2 linked regions of the Homo sapiens genome follow. The protein of the gene in region 1 interacts with the protein of each later gene in a biochemical or structural test. Each region holds a gene or a part of one and is shown on either strand. Other genes may lie near its edges.

Region 1 (5,514 bases):
CATTTGAAATTAAAACACAAAACTATAGTTTGCTCTATAGTAACATTTAAAGCCTCTTTCATTAATGGGTCATTTTAATAAATAAGAATTCATGAATTAATTTTTTAAGAAAAAATAAGCCTTTGAAATTTTTTATTTTACAGAAACTACCTGTATAATCCTTACTATCTGTTAAACTTTTCAAAGGAGAATTTTCAGTGTTTTCCTTATTCTTTAGTTTTCTTTTCTATATGTGTATGTGATGGGAAATAGGGATGACAGTGATAAATTGAAGTCTCCAGATATCCTCAAAATTAATTTTGATCATAATTTATAATCTATGAAACTATACTTTTTATAAAGTTATCTGATTCATTTAGTTTCTATCTTTTTACCCTGTTTCTACCCTTGGTTCAGGAAAATAAAATGTTCTCCATATATATTTAATATATATATTTATATTTGCTGAGATTTGCAAATATATAGTCCCATAAATAATCCAAAATTTTTAACTTGAAAGATGGTTTGTAACAGAATTATTGTTGAATTGATTAGCTTCTAATAGATGAGATGTCATGTACATGTTTACCACTTTGATTTTTTTAAGTCAATCATGTTAATAATAACATTATTCGTGTGTTTTTTTAGGCATGTTTACATATCACAAGGATTCACACTGCCATTGGTTTAGCAGCTTTAAATGTGATAACTATTCTGAATTCCGATTGGTTGGAATTGTATCCTTTAAACTTTCCACTAGGAGGTGCTAATAGATTAGAGATTTTTAAAGATTTTATCTGTATTTTAGAAAACTGTTTTCTTTAGCCATTTTATCCAAATTAAATGTTATTGTCAAATGTACTATTAGATTTTCAGTAATCTTCATTATGTGTAATATATGTCAGTAGACTTAATTGAAAGAAATGAGAGTTTGATTTTTTTCTGAAAACCTTATCTCAAAATAAAAATGGTTCTTTCCTATTTCACATATAATTGAAGTTATCACTAATTTAAGGCATTTTTTAAAAAAAATCAAAGTATTTCCCATTTATAATGAAGTATTTTTTTTCTGTTCTTTCACTTTGTGCTCATTTCCCTCAGTTTACTGAATTGAAATTGGGGGAATTAAATCTAGCTCTTTAATATGCCTCCAAATCCTGAAACATAAAGGAAGCATCCATAAAAATTGAATGGAATGGGAATATTTAAAGCATATAGTATTATTTTATAGTATTTTTAAAAATTTTATAAGTCCATCTGCAATCCTATGATTCCTATCAGGTATATTGTAGAGGGCATTTCTGCATTGGGTAGGAGATTGGACAAGATGCCTTCTACATTAGCTTTTTAGATTCCAAGAAATGTAATTGTTTGTGGAAGAAAGGAGGGAAGAGTAAATAAATAAGCACTGGAGATAAGAAAGTATAAAAGGGGTGGGGGGGAATTCTTAATCTGTTCTCAGAGTCAAATGACCATATGGCAGTAAGTACTAAGGAGTTCTGAGAAGGAAAATATACAATGTATTTTTCCCAGAGAGGATAGAGATTTAAAAAATGGAACAATTACATTTGATTAATATATGGCTGGTGAGAGTGGTGGGACATTATAAGCTGAGAGAATGGTGAGAATAAAAAAGGCTAAATTGTGCTGGGCTTGGTAGAGAGCAGCAGCAAGCGCACTGAAAGTTATGGAAAATACCATCAGAAAATGAATGAAGAGCCATCTTTGAATGTCTGTCTTTGTTACATCTGTTGGAATAAATTATGAGACATATATATGGAAACTGAGAGACCAGATTAATAAAAGAAAGTGTAGTAGGGAACAAACTACACATTAAGATAGTAAACTCAACTTGAAATTTTGTATATATTGTTGTGTCTAAAGGTCCAAAGTGCTAAATTCCACAAAATGAATAACGCTTAACAATTCTGAGACTCCTGTTTATATTCTAGTATCTGCAGTAATCATTTGTTGAATGTTTCATCTTCATTGAAGGGCCTAATCATTGATGCTTGTCACTATACTATGAGCTATTTATATGTTCATACATATATGTTTGTCATGCTTTATATTCATATATCACAATTTAGATTTGGATGATATTTTGACTCTAATATTTACACTAAAATATTATAGCTTAGTTACATTTTTAAGTGATACTATACATAAAATCATGAAATTGCTCATTGTTTTTTTTGCAATAGATATTAGTTTCTATTTAGTCATTACCCAAAAGAGCATATTAAGCATGTTTAGATATTCTATATTTCAAGTTAAACAATTAAATCTAAAAATTATAATTGCTACTCTCATTATTATGTGTGTTTATCACACACACAGATATAAAACCTATAGAAAGCTAAATTGATGCTGTAAAAAGCATAATACTATATAGGAGAAATGTGAGATGAGAGTGGATTGTGGTCAGGTAAGGAGTTGGGAACTGAAATTTGAGAAAGAACAGGTATGAACATTGAGAAAATATAGTTGGTTTCATATATATCTCCAGTTTTAAAATTTCAGGACCAAAGATGTGTTGTTCTAGTAGTTCTGACAGTATTGTGTTTCTAATACAATTATTTTGAAGTATAAGGCCTTATTATCAGACTTCATTACACCTTAGCAAATTGAAATTTTGGTGGTCTTCCAATTTTTAAAAGTTATTTTCAGTAATTTACCCAGCTCATATGTTTAGATTTCCTTATGATCCTATAAAATGAATTACTTCCTTAATAACTTTATATAATAATTGACTGTTGAAATACTATGAAATTTGATCTAAAACCTCTCTTTCCATAAATGGATAAGTTACATTCCACCATATGACTAATAAATAATCCTGAGCAAAATTTGTAACATCTGTAGCTTTTTAACTTTGACACTGAAACTCCAAGTAACATAAGTCTTTCAAGTTTTACTGTTGGAAATTACCTATCCTATTAGCTTATCAATAGCATGTTTATATCCATATGTTTATTCAGTTTAGCTCTGTTCTTCACACATAGTCTGTTTTTAATTTTAAAATAAATAAAATGGCTATCTCCAAAATCAGTATTCTACAGTGAGATCTACTGAATAAACCATTGCTGCTGCTTATAAAATTGCCAGCATCTTTGTTTAAATTTAGAAAATGTTTTCTGTAAAATAATTACAGGCAAGTCTTAAGTTGCTGCCTGTTGTGATCTTAGATAAACTTTTCTAGGGAAATCATTGAATACTATCAACTAAACCACTCCTTTTTACATGACTTTTTGTAATCAAGGAATTATATTATGTAAAATAAAGGGGAAATAAATGAAAGAGGGGAAAGGAAATATGTGATACTAATTAGAAAGTCAGTGTTAAATCTGAAAGAAGTATGCAAAAAATAGACTGATGCATAATTCAGAACTCATTTGTTGTCATGGATTTTATGTTAATGCTTAACATTTAGTATGCATAGCTTATGGGACTAGCTGTTTATAACAGCATCACCTTGGATATTCGTTTCCCTCCCTGCTGTTACAAGAAATTATTGAGCCCTCCCATCATTCCTAGTGATCAAAATATACCAGTAGGCATCTGCAATGTTACCGTGGACGACTTATGTCAAATTATGCCTGTAAGTATAAAGTTATTAATATCTTGTCCTTTAATGCGAAATCATCTTTTTTCTACCTGCACAGTCTCTCCTCCTAATGCTATTCTTACTTTTAAATATGGTTTCCTTCTACCTTTATAACTCATCTCCTTTTTTCATCTAGCTTTTTCTTTCCTTAGAGACACATGTCACCCACTTTGCAGTGCTCCTAAGCTTTTACAAGATAGAGAGGCAGTAATTCGAATCCAGGCTCTGTCACTTACTAGCTCTGTGAATTTGGACAAGTTATTTAACCCTTCAATTTAGTTTCTTTATGTGAACAATGGGATAGTTTTTATTAATAATTTTTAAATGATGACAATTATATCAAATCTGTGCCAGCCTAGATTTGTATGAAAATTTGTGGTTTTAAAGGAATAGAACATTTATTATGTAAAATATAGAAAATCATTCTAATCATGCTATTATTTACCTTTTTCTAATAATTTAAAATAAAACTTTAATTTTTTCATAAAAATTAAATTGAAAATTTTGAAATATTGGATCAATTTTTCTATTTTTAAATCTTTATTTATGGATAATTTCAATTATAATATAATGTAAGAAAATCTTTCTTTTTTTTTTTTGAGACAGAATCTCACTCTGTCACCCAGGCTGGAGTGCAGTGGCTCCACCTTGGCTCACTGCAACCTCCGCCTCCTGGGTTCAAGTGATTCTCGTGCCTCAGCCTCCTGAGTATCTGGGATTTTAGGCATGTGCCACCGTGCCCGGCAAATTTTTTTTTTTTTTTTTTTTTTTTTTTTTAGCAGAGACGGGGTTTTGCCATGTTGGCCAGGCTGGTCTCGAACTCATGGCCTCAAGTGATCCGCCTGCCTCAGCCTCCCAAAGTGCTGGGATTACAGGCATGAGCCACTGAGCCCAGCCAGAAAATGTTTCTTTTTTTTTTTTTTTTTCTGCCCAAGACAGTCTTGCTCTGTTGTCCAGGCTAGAATGCAGTGGAACAATCTCAGCTCACTGCAACCTCCACCTCCCAGGTCCGAGCAATTCTCCTGCCTCAGCCTCCCGAATAGCTGGGATTACAGGTGTGAGCCACCACACCTGGCTATTTTTTTTTTTTTTTTTTTTTTTTTTGGATTTTTAGTAGAGACAGGGTTTCACCATGTTGGCCAGGCTGGTCTTGAACTCCTGACCTTGTGATCTGCCCACCTCGGCCTCCCAGAGTGCTGGGATTACAGGCATGAGCCACCGTGCCCGGCTAACCAGAAAATGTTTCTTTCAGTATACTTAACTTTTTCTTGGGAGGGGAGGGCACTGTGCATGTATGAACTGTATATTCATGAATGCACATGAATGAACTGTGTGTTTTATGTTTAAAATATGAATCCAAAAACATTAGCAGATTTTCATAGGAATATAAATTGAAAGTGAGAAATACTACAAATTCATAAACAGTAATGTGGCAGATAGCAGTGAATTATGACAGACACTACATTAGAGGTATGCTTAGCTTGCTGCTTAAGAGTAGACCCCAGAGTTATGCCCCTGTAGTTTGAACTGGATAGTTTCCCCATCTATGACCTATAATGATTTTTTTCTTAGCCTCTGGATGGTAGAAATCATTAACCATTTTGTGCCCTGGAAAATACATGTCAAATATGATCTTTATATACATATGCATGAGCTATAGAAAAGCCACTTCATTATCCTAGCTAATGCTATTCTATTGAAAAAATCATTAACAGATTTCTTTTTATAGGAGTTGGCCCATGGATTAAGTGAACTCTTATCACATGAAGGCAATGTTGAAGAAGATTTCTATTCAACATTTCAGGTACTATTAAGGGCAAGTAGTTATCTGTTAATCATATATTTCATATATGAACAGTGCAATTTGTTATTAAATACCCACTGTTAGAAAAGATGAACAAGGATTAACCAATACATACAATCCTCTG
Region 2 (4,507 bases), on another chromosome or scaffold:
GCCTTTACCCGGAAGGTATATCTTATGTTTTAATTTTTGCATGCCTCTTTCACCAAAAATCTCTGGGACAGGCACATAGTTTGTGTGACTTATGCACACCTGAGCCACTCCTTTGACCATCCACAGATCCCCAGACTAGGAAAGAGGCCCAGAGAAGTTCAGATGAGTTTGGCCAAGTTCCCTGGGTGGTGAGAGGCCTGGCCTGCCTCATGTAGTAACAGAACTGCTTCTTTTTTTTCCTTCCTCTTTTTGGAAGAAAAAAGAGGCAGGATCTCACTGTCTTGTCCAGGCTGGAAGGCAGTGGCGTGATCATGGCTCACTACAGCCTTAACAACTAACAACTTAAAACTATAGCCTCAAGCAGTCCTCCTACCTCAGCCTCCTGAGTGGCTGGGACTACAGGTGTGCACCAGCAGCACGCACAGCTAATTTAAAAAAATTGTTAGCAACAAAGTGAGATCCTGTCTTTACAAAAGGACTTGTTTTTGTTTTGTTTTGTTTTTTTGAGAGAACACCTTGCTCTATCGCCTAGGCAGGAGTGCAGTGGTGCAGTCTTGGCTCACTGCAGCGGTGTGATCTTGGCTCACTGCAGCCGGTGCCTCCTGGGTTCAACCAGTTCTCATGCCTCAGCCTCCTGAGTAGATGTGATTACAGGTGCGTGCCACCACGCCCAGCTAATTTTTTGTATTTTTAGTAGAGACAGAGTTTCACCGTGTTAGCCAGGATGGTCTCGATCTCCTGATCTCGTGATCCACCTGCCTCGGCCTTTTTTTAGTATAGATAGGGTTTCTTTTTTTTCTTTTTCTTTTTCTTTTTGAGATGGATTTTCACTTTTGTTGCCCAGGCTGGAGTGCAATGGCACAATCTCAGCTCACCACAACCTCTGTCTCCCAGGTTCAAGTGATTCTCCTGCCTCAGCCTCCCAAGTAGCTGGGATTACAGGCATGTGCCACCACGCCTGGCTAATTTTTGTATTTTTAGTAGAAACGGGGTTTCACCATGTTGGCCAGGCTTGTCTCAAACTCCTGGCCTCAAGTGATCTGCACATTTCAGCCTCCCAAAGTGTTGGGATTACAGGCATGAGCCACTGCGCCCAGTCTGTTTTTGGCTTTTTTGAGACAGGTTCTCATTCTGTCACCCAGGCTAGAGTGTAGAGGTGTGATCATGGCTCACTGCAGCCTCAGCCTCCTGGGCTCTTGTGATCCTCCTGCCTTAGCCTCCCAAAGTGTTGGGATTACGGGCATGAGCCACTGCACCCAGCCAAATCTGCTTCTCTTGAGCTTTGCCCATGTGTCAGGCATGTAGGACTTTATAGTCCTTATCTCTCATCATAAACTCTGGGTACAGGCTGTTGCTACTCCCATTTTACAGATGTACAGGAACATTCTCAGACTCTTTAAGCTAGGAAGAGGCAAAGTCTGAGGCTAGACCTGCTAACTTGGGGCCAGATGGCCTCATTCATGCTTCACCCCAGCTCCTCGGACAGGACCTGGCCCACAGTGGGGAACAGGGGAGGTTGGTCAGTCCTGGACAATCAGTGAAGACCTTTAGCAGATTTCACCAACCAAAAGTCATGCAGGAAAGTGTGCGCGCGCGCGTGTGTGTGGTATGTGTGTGTGTGTGTGGTGTGTGTGTGTGTGTCTTACTCTGTTGCCCAGGCTGGAGTGCAGTGGCACAATCTTGGCTCACTGCAACCTCTGCCTCCCAGGTTCAAGTGATTCTCCTGGCTCAGCCTCCCAGTGTGCCACCACACCCAGTGAGGGAAAGCTATTTTTACATGGCTCAAGCAGTGTAAATGACAATGATGTTTACTTACTTCCCCCCACCACCACCACCATTTAATTCTCCTCTTGAAAACTAAAAGCTGGCTGGGTATGGTGCATCACTCCTATAATCCCAGCACTCCAGCACTTTGGGAGGATCACTTGAACTCAGGAGTTTGAGGCCAGCCTGGACAACATAGTGAGACGCCATCACTATAAGAAATAAAAAAATAGCTGAGTGTGGTGGCATATGCCTGTAGTCCCAGCTACTTGGGAGGCTGAGGTGGGAGGATTGCTAGAGCCCGGGAAGTCAAGGCTGCAGTGAACCGTGATTGCACCTCTGCACTCCAGCCTGGGTGACTCCCCACAGATGAATATGCTGACAGTGGTTTCAGCTGCTCGGTGGTGATTCAGACCTGGACGCGTGGCTTCAGTAGCCCTGGGGCCACACTGCCTGCCCGCAGCCTCCTGTCTTGCTCTATGCTATTCCTTCCAAGTCCCTGCCATCTAGTCTTTAGTCCTCTCTGCCTGGGAGGCCTCTTCCACTCCTCAGCCTTATGTCATCTTATCCATCCTTTAAGGCCCTTGCTCCATGCCTCCCCTCCCAGGGCAGGGCTTGGATGTAGGAGAATGTGGAGAACTGGCGCACGCCAGCCTTGCTCCCCAGCAGAGGAGCTCTGTTTACTGGAGTGCGTACTTAGGCCACGGCTTGAAGATATGGGGCTGGGGTGTAGGGCTGTCAAGATTGTTCCTGGGGCCAGGTGCAGTAGTTCACTCCTGTAATCCCAACACTTTGGGAGGCCGAGGCCGGCAGTTCACCTGAGGTCAGGAGTTCAAGACCAGGCTGGCCAACATGGTGAAACCCCATCTCTACTAAAAATACAAAAAAAAAAAAATTAGTCGGGCAGGGTAGCGGGTACCTGTAATCCCAGCTACTTAGGAGGCTGAGGTGGGAGAATTGCATGAACCAGGGAGGCAGAGGTTGCAGTGAGCTGAGATCGCGCCACTGCACTCCAGCCTGGGCGACAGAGCGAGACTCCGTCTTAAAAAAAAAAAAAAAAAAAAAAAGATTGTTCTTGGGCTCTCTGTGAAGCTTGGATTTCTTTGGGTTGGGTGTGCCATGGCAAGTGCCATGGCAGACCTGGGTGAGGGAAAAGGGAGTACAATGGGAAGGGCTTCCCCAGCTCTGGAGATAGGTAGGGTTGGGGAGAGGCCAAAAGACTCTTTGCTGAGTCATCTCTCAGGCTCCTGGGGCCATCAGAGTGTCCAGGCCCCAAAGGTGGTTTTCGGGTGGTTCTAGGGGCAAGGGGCTAGGGCATGGTGCTGGCCCTGCCTGGTGATCACCTGTTGAGTGACCAGCTCAGGTCCCCAGGGTCCAGCCATTGAGCTGACTACTGTTTCTACCCTGGGAAGATTGAGCTGGCCAGGACTTGGCATCAAGGCAGTTATTTGGACTTCTAGTACTCACAGTGTATTCTGGTTGGGTTGTAACTTACCTCTGGTACAACTCTACTTGTATCTTCAGAAAAGATCAAGAGATATTTGCAAAAACATAATATGATAAAGGACTGTCTAAAGGACAAAGAACACTTAAAACTCTATAATAAGAAAACAACAATAAATAACACCGTGCATCTCTTAGAATGACCAAAATCCAGAACACTGCCAAATGCTGCTGAGGACGTAGAGCAACAGGAACTCTCGCTCTTTCCTGGTGGGAATGCAAAATGGTGCAGCCACCTTGGAAGACAAGTTAGGCGGTTTCTTTCATTTATTTATTCATAAAATCTTTTTAACAAAGAAATTGAGTCTCTCTCTTGCCCAAAATGGAGTGCAGAAGCGTGATCACAGCTCATTGCATTCTCAAACTCCTGGGCCTAAGAAGTCCACCCTTCTTAGCCTCTGAAGTAGCTGAGACTACAGGCACATGCCACCATGCCAGGCCAATATATTTATTTTGTTATTATTTTTTGAGATGGAATCTTGCTCTGTCACCCAGGCTGGAGTGTAGTGGCGCAACCTCAGTTCACTGCAATCTCTGCCTCCCGGGTTTAAGCAATTCTCCTACCTCAGCCTCCCAAGTAGCTGGACTACAGGCGTGCACCACTACGCTCTGCTAATTTTTTTGTATTTTTAGTAGAGACAGGGTTTTACCACGTTGGCCAGGCTGGTCTTGAACTCCTGACCTCAAGTGATCTACCCAGCTTAGCCTCCCAAAGTGCTGGGATTACAGGTGTGAGCCACTGAGCCTGGCCCAGGCTAATATATTTAATTTTTTTTTTTTTTTTTTTTTGTAGAGATGGGGTCTTGTTATGTTTCACAAACTGGTCTTGAACTCCCGGCCTCAAGTGATCCTCCCTCCCTGGCCTCCCACAGTGCTCAGATTACAGACATGAGTCACTGCTCCTGGCCCAGTTTGGCAGTTTTGTTTTGTTTTTTTTTTGAGACTCAGTCTCGCTCTTTCGTCCAGGCCAGACTGCAGTGGCGCAATCTCCACTCACTGCAAGCTCCGCTTCCCAGGTTCACACCATTCTCCTGCCTCAGCCTCCTGAGTAGCTGGGACTACAGGCGCCCACCACCACGTCCAGCTAATTTTTTTTTGTATTTTTAGTAGAGACGGGGTTTCACTGTGTTAGCCAGGATGGTCTCGATCTCCTGACCTCGTGATCCACCTGCCTTGGCCTCCCAAAGTGCTGGGATTACAGGCGTGAGCCACCGCGCCCGGCCGGCAGTTTCTTACAAAA

Evidence for each region. Proteins that work in one complex are often made in the same cells at the same time.
Region 2: the proteins of HECTD2 (region 1) and UBE2L3 form a complex in vitro, tested with the Homo sapiens proteins (one large-scale study listed by BioGRID).

Annotation. Positions count from the first base shown.
Region 1 is NC_000010.11:91,492,793-91,498,306, forward strand, and holds part of HECTD2 (probable E3 ubiquitin-protein ligase HECTD2), read left to right. Parts: intron 1-627; coding exon 628-716; intron 717-3,412; coding exon of another isoform or gene 3,413-3,421; coding exon 3,422-3,580; intron 3,581-5,315; coding exon 5,316-5,390; intron 5,391-5,514.
Region 2 is NC_000022.11:21,604,707-21,609,213, forward strand, and holds part of UBE2L3 (ubiquitin-conjugating enzyme E2 L3), read left to right. Parts: intron 1-4,507. UniProt on the Homo sapiens protein: Ubiquitin-conjugating enzyme E2 that specifically acts with HECT-type and RBR family E3 ubiquitin-protein ligases.